Linked DNA regions of Homo sapiens: region 1 is linked to region 2. The links come from fine-mapping of genetic effects on gene expression. Tissue or cell type: breast. Region 2 holds a variant in brackets; the other region holds the start of a gene. All regions are shown on one strand. Distances are between the middles of the regions.

Evidence for each region. PIP is the estimated chance that this variant, and not a neighbour inherited with it, causes the effect.
Region 1: it holds the start of LINC00910, and the variant in region 2 is fine-mapped to the expression of LINC00910 in breast (GTEx, PIP 0.91).

The regions. Positions count from the first base shown.
Region 1 is chr17:43,386,726-43,391,243 of GRCh38, forward strand. LINC00910 (long intergenic non-protein coding RNA 910) reads right to left here and starts at 2,173. Exons shown (of 6, transcript NR_027412.1): 1 at 1,564-2,173. It also overlaps the pseudogene RNU2-4P. RefSeq lists enhancers at 224-739, 740-1,255, 1,546-2,299, 1,753-1,982, 2,300-3,053 and a silencer at 1,896-2,190.
Region 2 is chr17:43,363,577-43,367,832 of GRCh38, forward strand. No RefSeq gene overlaps it. Among named protein-coding and RNA genes, the nearest start is that of LINC00910, 23 kb to the right of the region's middle. RefSeq lists a silencer at 4,025-4,256. The variant C/A (reference allele first, on the strand shown) is at 2,018.

The sequences.
Region 1 (4,518 bases), 23 kb after region 2:
CCAGCCTGGTCAACATGGTGAAACCCCGTTTCTACTAAAAATACAAAAATTAGCTGGGCATGGTGGCGGGTGCCTGTAATCCCAGATACTCGGGAGGCTGAGGCAGGAGCATTGCCTGAACTCGGGAGGCAGAGGTTGCAGTGAGCCGAGATGGTGCCGTTGCACTCCAGCCTGGGTACCAAGAGCTAAACTCCATCTCAAAAACAAAAAACAAACAAACAAACAGAGTAAGTTGAAGTCCAGCCTGGGCAACACACCACTGGAATCCATCCCTTTGAAAGGTCATCACCCCTCCACAGCCAAGCTGAGATTTAAAGCCCTCCAAGTAAAGTCGAACATGTTCCCTACTTGGAAATGAATATTCTTGTTTTGGGTCCTAGGATACTCTCCATAAATCATGAACCTTATGATACTTAAAGGAGTAAGAAAACCTACCAACTATCCTAAACTACCCGGCGCAGTCTTTTCTTTCTAACCTTGCAAACAGGTTGTATCCCAGGAGAGGGAGCCCCATTCCTGGAGGTACTGCAATACCAGGTCGACGCGTGGAGTGGACAGAGCAAGCTCCTATTTCATCTCCCTGCTCCAAAAATCTATCTAATATAATTGTTCTCTGATAGAGGACGTATCAGATATTAAACTGATAAGAACAGATACTACACTTGATCTTAGCCAAAAGGACGAGAAGAGATGTCGTCGCCTTCCTCCCTGCCATCACCGTCCCACTCTCATCTACATTCAAGACGCGGTGAGAGCCCCAGCCTCGCTCCTTGCCTCATTCACTTTGTCTTGTCCACACCAATATTGACGCCATTACACACTCGGGCTGATTTCTTATTCTCCACGTTTTAAAAGAAAAATCTGCCGGGCGCAGTGGCTCACGCCAGTAATCCTAACACTTTGGGAGGCCGAGGCGGGTGGATCACAAGGTCAGGAGATCAAGACCATTCTGGCAAACACGGAGAAATCCCGTCTCGACTCAGGAGCTCGAGACCAGCCTGGGGAACACGGTGAAACCCCATCTCTACTAAAAATACAAAAAAATTAGCCGGGCGTGCCGGGCGCGGTGACTCACGCCTGTAATCCCAGCACTTTAGGAGGCCGAGGCAGGTGGATCACGAGGTCAGGAGATCGAGACCATTCTGGATAACACGGAGAAACCCCGTCTCTATTAAAAATACAAAAATTAGCCGGGCGTGGTGGCACGTGCCTGTAGTCCCAGCTACTTGGGAGGCTGATGCAGGAGAATCTCTTGAACCTGGGAGTCCGAGGTTGCAGTGAGCCAAGATTGCGCTACTACACTCCAGCCTGGGCGACAGAGTGAGACTCCATCTAAAAAAAAAACAAAAACAAAAAAACAAAAATTAGTCAGGCGTGGTGTCGCGCGCCTGTAATCCCAGCTACTAGGGAGGCTGGGCAGTAGAATCACTTGAACCCGGGAGGCGGAGGTTGCAGTGAACCGAGATCGCGCCACTGCACTCCAGCTTGGGCGACAGAGCGAGACTCTGTCTCAAAACAACAACAAAACAACAACAACAACACAAAAACCAAGAGAAATCTTACACCAGTTCTAGTTCCGGGGTTTCCGGGCTTTCATTTCGAATTTGCATGCCCTGCCCTTTCCCAGGAGGCGTGGCCACCGCGGTTGACTCCACCCCCGGGCCCGCCTCCAGCTAAGGAGCCGCGGCTGGGCTAGGGGCGACTTCCTTGTTTGTATGAGCGAAAAGACTGAACCAAAAGAGACAGGGGGTGAAAACAAGATAGGTCTGTGGAAGAGACCTGTAGGCGGAGAGCGGTCCCTGTTTTCCTGGAGAAAGACGAGTCGCAAGATATCATCACCAGGGGAAACCAGGCTGAGCTGGATCTTTACGTCGTCACCAGTGGGCGGGGAGACCAGCCTTGTACCCACTGGACAGCGGGCCCATTCCGAGTCAGGGAAGCAGAAGGCCTGGAGGAGCTTCGGGGAGCAGGGGCTGGAGTTCCTCTGCCAGGCAGGAGGCTGACACCAGACACCGGGCAGAGGGAGGCGGCGCATGGACGGCGAGGGCCCAGCAAGGATTCTCCCCAGCCCCTGTGCCTGCGTCTCCTGCGGCTTCTGTGCGCGGACCGTGTCCTGTGCTGTGTAGGGAAAGCTGCTTCTCTGCTTGGGACGTGGATTCCTTTACCCTCCTCCTCGCCTGACTACTTCTGACGCGGGTCGTCAGGACTCCGCTTGGGTGTCACCCGTCCAGGAAGCCTCCCTTAATTAAGGGCCCTCGGCACCCACCCCATATGTGATTAGCAGCCCTCCTGTGTATTTCATCGCACCTCGTTGTTTATATCAACTACTCCACTCACCACCCTTCTGGGCAGTCCTTTATCTCCCCCTCTGAAATCCGATCGCTGAGGGCTGGGACCCTCATCAGTACTTATCCCCGTTTCTCTGCGCTAGTCTAATTAGTGCCTGGCAAGTTGAAGGCGCTCAGTAAACGTTTGTGGAGCGAAGAAACGACGGATAGGGCGTAATGAGCACGACACACGCAATCAGAGAGGACGCAGTTAGGAGGCTATTGGCCCGGGGCAGGCGTGAAGGGGGAAGATCGGGCTCGGGGTGGGAGGACACCAGAGGGCGGGGTGACTGTCGGGGTGCTCTGGAGGAAGATGGGCGTCAAGGCCCCCAGCAAGGTTGGGATAAATTTTCTCTCTGAGGCACAGACTGCCGCCTGTAGCGTCAGCATTTACCATTCCCGTCCTCCTTCCTAACACAACAGTTGAGATGAGAGTTTATGGCTCTTTTATTTGATTTCAGAAAAGCAAGAAGGTATCATAGATCCGATAGTGACACTCAGTCAGTCATGCTCCCCCTGCAGGATGGAAAGCCGGATGGCAGGGATTGCCTGGTGAACAACCAGGTCAAAAAATATAAACTGTGCCTTTCCCAATGCCAGCCTCGGGTCCGAGGGCTCTACGTGCATTATCTCTTTTAGTTCACTCGACAGCCCTAAGAGATGGGCGTTATTATTAGCCACGGCCAGGATTAGGGTGAGGTCATTCCTCTAGGTTCGAATTTCAGGGGGTGATCCTCCAGAACCCTTCAGTAATCAAAATAAATAATAGTTCAATGCAATATATCTTATCTCGATTATAAGATAATCAAGCCATTTATCTGGATTGCTGAGTCTTTTGGTGCCCCCTTATTTTTTTTTTTAACCTCTCAGCAAGTGTTTCCCTCATTTCACTTTACCCCAGTCTCCACCGAGTCATTGTCATCTCCATTCTATTACCCTGTGAAGTGCAATATGGCAGCCACCCACCTCGGCCTCCCAAAGTGCTGAGATTATAGGCGTGAGCCACTGCGCCTGGCCTGTCTGTCTGTCTGTCTATCTATCTATCTATCTATCTATCTATCTGTTCTTTTTTCTGAGACGGAGTCTCGCACTGTCGCCCGGGCTGGAGTGCAGTGGCGCTATCTCAGCTCACTGCAACCTCCGCCTCCCGTGTTTAAGCGACTCTCCTGCGTCAGCCTCCCAAGTAGCTGGGACTACAGGTGCGTGCCACCACACCGGACTGATTTTTTGTATTTTTAGTAGAGACGGGGTTTCACCGTGTTAGCCAGGATGGTCTCCATCTCCTAACCTCGTGATCCGCGTGCCTCGGCCTCCCAAAGTGCTGGGATTACAGGCATGATCCACCGCGCCTGGCCATATCTATCTATATTTTGAGACAAGGTTTCCCTCTGTTGTCCAGGCTGGAGTGCAGTGTTACAATCACGGTTCACTCACCATACACCAAGATAAATGCCAAGTGGGCCAAAGATTTCAAAGTGAAAAAAATGGAACTATAAAAGTATATAAGGGCCAAGGCCAGGCGCGGTGGCTCACGCCTGTAATCCCAGCACTTTGGAAGGCCGAGGAGGGCAGATTACGACGTCAGGAGTCAGAGACCAGCCTGGCCAATGTAGTGAAACCCCATCTCTACTAAAAATAAAATTAGCTGGGTGTGATGGCACGCACTCGTAGTTCCAGCTACTCAGGGGGCTGAGGCGGGAGAATCGCTTGAACTCGGAGGTGGAGGTTGCAGTGAGCCAAGACCATGCCACTGCCCTCCAGCCTGGGTGACAGAGTGCGACTCTGTCTCAAAAAAAAAAAAAAGTATATGAGGGCCAAGCACGGTGGTTCATGCCTGTAATTCCAGCACTTTGGGAGGCCAAGGTGGGCAGATTGCTTGAGCCCAAGAGTTTGAGACCAGCCTGGGCAATATAGCAAGACCTCGTCTCTACAAATAATTTTTAAAAATAAAAATAAAAATTGTAAAAAAAAAGACCAAAAAAAAAAGTATAGAGGACACCAGGGGTGGTGGCTCATGCCTGTAATCCCAACACTTTGGGAGGGCAAGGTGGGAAGATCACTTGAGCCCAGCAATTCAAGACCAGCCTGAACAACACAGGGATACCCTGTCTCTACAAAATACTAATAATAGGCCGGGCATGGTGGCTCATGCCTGTAATCCCAGCACTTTGGGAGGCTGAGGTGGGCGGAG
Region 2 (4,256 bases):
ACCCAGTCTCCTCCCTCTCAAGCCATTTTCCAACCTGCCTGGGAGCCACTCTGATCTCCCAGAACACCTCATTTTGTGAATTATAAACCTTTTCACACCTTCTCGGTCCCTGTGTGATGTCACCAGTCTCGATTTCCAAAATAAATTTGGGGTCAGTGGTGGGGCTGGGGTCCATCTAGTTCTGCAGAGTGGGAACAGCACAGAAGCTACCGGACTTGCTGTGCGCATAGTCCAATTTGGGTGCAAAAGCCTCCCCACTGGACTGGGTGGCCTCTTATCAGTGACAAAACCAAGGGATTTGCTAGTCCCTCATTTACACACTGGTTACTGAGTGCCTCCCGTTGAGTTGAACACTTTTACTTCCGGGGAAAATTCGTTGTTCCAGACCAAGTTGACTACTGTCTTCACTGGACATTCTAAGAGGTGCTTTTGGTCCCAGGGAAATACCCCGGAAGCTGTGAAGTACAACAGCCTTAGGCCCTGTCCCAAATATTCTAATTTAATGGCTGTACGGTGGGGCTAGGACCTCAGGATGATTCACTCCACCGAGGTATCCGGTCGTCCTGAAGTATAGCCAAGGTTGAGAAGCACCGATAGACACGGAAGAATTTTCACTCCCCTTCAGCAAAGACCTTTGTAGGTATGACCTCCTTTGGCTGTCATTGTTCAGAATGGTGGGGGGTCTGGCAAGAGCGAGTCTTAGGGCTGAGACTAAACCCAATTTATAGGATTTAAGTCCTCTAGATGGGAGGTGGGACAACTGGGACTGCTCACTTGTTCACATGTACATCGGCCTGGTGTATTTCCACCAGAAACTGTTCCTCATTATACTGTCTGCCTGGGCCGATCCCTCCTGTCATAAGTTGACACAAGTAAATTGCAAAGTCCTAATCACCTAATTTTGGTGGAGTCTTTAGGTTTTTCCAAATATATCACCTTCAAACGAGGATAATTTGACTTCTTCCTGTCCTTTTTTTTCTTCTTCTTTTTCTTTTCTTTTTTTTTTTTTTAAGACAAAGTCTCACTCTGTCACCCAGTCTGGAGTGCAATGGCACGATCTCGGCTTACTGCACCCTCTGTCTTCCGGGTTTAAGTGATTCTCAGATCTCAGCCTACTGAGTAGCCGGGACTACAGGTGTGTGCCACCATGCCCAGCTAATTTTTTTATTTTTGTAAAGGCAAAATTTCACCATGTGGCCTAGGTTGGTCTTGAACCACTGGACCCAAGCAATCCTCCTGCCTCTGCCTCCCAAAGTGCCAGGATTACAGGTGTGAGCCACTGCGTCCAGCAAGAATAATTTCAATCTCTGGTAAATGCACCTGATAGAACTGTGAATTTCCAACTTCTTTGTCTTTTCTTTTCTCTTTTCCTTTCCCTCTCTCTCTCTCTTTCTCTCTTTCTTTCTTTCGTTTCTCTCTTGTTGCCCAGGCTGGAGTGCAGTGGGGATCTTGGCTCCCCATAGCCGGTGCCTCCCGGATTCAAACAATTCTCCTGCCTCAGGCTCCTGGAGTAGCTGGGATTACAGGCACAGGCCACCATGCTTGGCTAATTTTGTAGTTTTTGTAGAGACGGGGTTTCTCCATGTTGGTCAGGCTGGTCTCGAACTCCCAACCTCAGGTGATCTGCCTGTCTCGGCCTCCCAAAGTGCTGGGATTACAGGTGTGAGCCACCGCGCCTGGCCGTTTTCTCTAGTTTCTTTAAATTTCCTCAAAATGGCTATTTTGAATTCTCTGTCTGAAATGTCACGTCTCAGTTCCTCTGGAATTGAACAAATGTGGTTTGGTGAGACCATGTTTTCTTGGATGATCTTGATGTTTGTGGATGTTTGTTTTGTCTGCGTATGGAAGAATTAGGTATTTACTGTATTTTTCACAGTCTGGGCTTGTTTCTGTGTGTCTTTCTTGGGAAGGCTTTCTGGGTATTCCAGGATATGTGTGCCCCAAGTCCAATCATGCTGTGATTCTTACAGACTTGTAGAGGTACTACCCTGGTGGTTATTGGGGGAAATTCAGCCAG[C/A]TATCAGGCAAAATTCACCCCTGATATTTTACGTAGTTCTTTTCTATTTTCCTGAAGTGTCGGCCAGTCTGAGAAATAAAGGGACAGAGTACAAAAGAGATAAATTTTAAAGCTGGGTGTCTGGGGGAGACATCACATGTTGGCAGGTTCCGTGATGCCCCCTGAGCCATAAAACCAGCAAGTTTTTATTAGTGATTTTCAAAAGGGGAGGGAGTGTACGAACAGGGTGTGGGTCACAGAGATCATGTGCTTCACAAGGTAATAGAATATCACAAGGCAAATGGAGGCAGGGCAAGATCACAGGACCACAGGACTGGGGCAAAATTAAAATTGCTAAGGAAGTTTCAGGCACACATTGTCATTGATAACATCTTATCAGGAGACAGGGTTTGAGAGCAGACAACTGGTCTGACCAAAATTTATTCGGCGGGAATTTCCTCGTCCTAATAAGCCTGGGAGCGCTATGGGAGACTGGGGCTTATTTCATCCCTACAGCTTCGACCATAAAAGATGGCCGCCCCCCGAAGCAGCCATTTTAGAGGCCTACCCTCAGGGACGCATTCTCTTTCTCAGGGATGTTCCTTGCTGAGAAAAAGAATTCAGCAATATTTTCCCATTTGCTTTTGAAAGAAGAGAAATATGGCTCTGTTCTGCCCAGCTCACCGGTGGTCAGAGTTTAAGGTTATCTCTCTTGTTCCCTGAACATTGCTGTTATCCTGTTCTTTTTTCAAGGCGCCCAGAATTCATGTTGTTCAAATACACATGCTCTACAATTTGTGCAATTTACACAATCATCACAGGGTCCTGAGGTGACATACATCCTCCTCAGCTTACGAAGATGACGGGATTAAGAGATTAAAGTAAAGACAGGCATAGGAAATCACAAGGGTATTGACTGGGGAAGTGATAAGCGTCCATGAAATCTTCACAATTTATGTTCAGAGATTGCAGTAAAGACAGGCGTAAGAAATTATAAAAGTATTAATTTGGGGAACTAATAAATGTCCATGAAATCTTCACAATTTATATTCTTCTGCCATGGCTTCAGCCGGTCCCTCCATTCAGGGTCCCCAGCTTCCCGCAACAGTGGTCTTGGATGAGATCTGAAAGAATCCTCTGGATTACCAGGCAGAGACTCTTGTTCTTTTCCCTTACTTTCTCCTAAATAAATGGAGTCTCTCTCTGTGCTGAGATGCCTAAGCAACCCTGTGCTGGTTCAGACCCAAACCCAGCACAGCACCAGGTCTCACTCAAAGGCCTGCTAGATCCACTACCTGCTACCACCTATGCCCCCTCAAAGCAGTAGAGCTCTAGGATCAGGTGGCCAAGCCAGCCAGGATTATGTCCCTCCCTTTAGGGCAGTGAGCTCCCTCAAGCCCTGGGTGGGTGCTGGAATGCTGTCTAGGAGCCAAGGTTTGGAGTCAAGACCTTAGAAATGTAACTGATGTTTTATTCTACTGCAGTTAAGCTCCTACGGAAACCACAAGAAAAAAGTTCTCCCCACTCTTGGCTAACTGCAAGATGCCTCCGATGAGGCCTCCTACCCAAACCTTTCTTATTCGCAGGGACCAGGCTTTCTTACTCGCAGGGACCAGGCTTCAGCTCCCTGACTAAGAAGTCAAATAAAGGTCGGGCGCGGTGGCTCAGGCCTGTAACCCTAGCATTTTGGGAGGCCAAGGCGGGCGGATCACTTGAGTTCAGGAGACAAACCTGGCCGACATGGTGAAACTCCCTCTCTCCTAAAAATACAAAAATTAGCCAGCCATGGTAGCGAACGCCTGTAGTCCCAGCTACTCGGGAGGCTGGGGCGGGAGGATCGCTTGAATCCGAGAGGCAGAGGTTGCAGTGAGCCGACATGAGGCCACTTCACTCCAGCCTAGGCAACAGAGTGAGACTCGGTATCAAAAAAAACAAAAAAGAAAAAATGTGAGCAGTTGGGAAGCAATAATATGAAAAATGAGAGCAAAAGTAACTGCAACATTGGGGAAGACTAAACAACGTCGCTTCTGGCGTTGGCTTATGGATGACCACCCTGCTTTCTTCACGTTTTAACTGTCTGGAGTCCAGAAATTAGCAATGCACCTCCTTGGCATATCAGGATGCCAACAAGCACCCTTGTCCCCAGTTTCAGGACTCGGCGGCGTACTTTCCCAATACGCATTCCCTTATTCTCAATCCGGTTAGAAGCAAAGAAGTAATACCACCCACCAATACTTTCCTTATACAACACAAAAACACA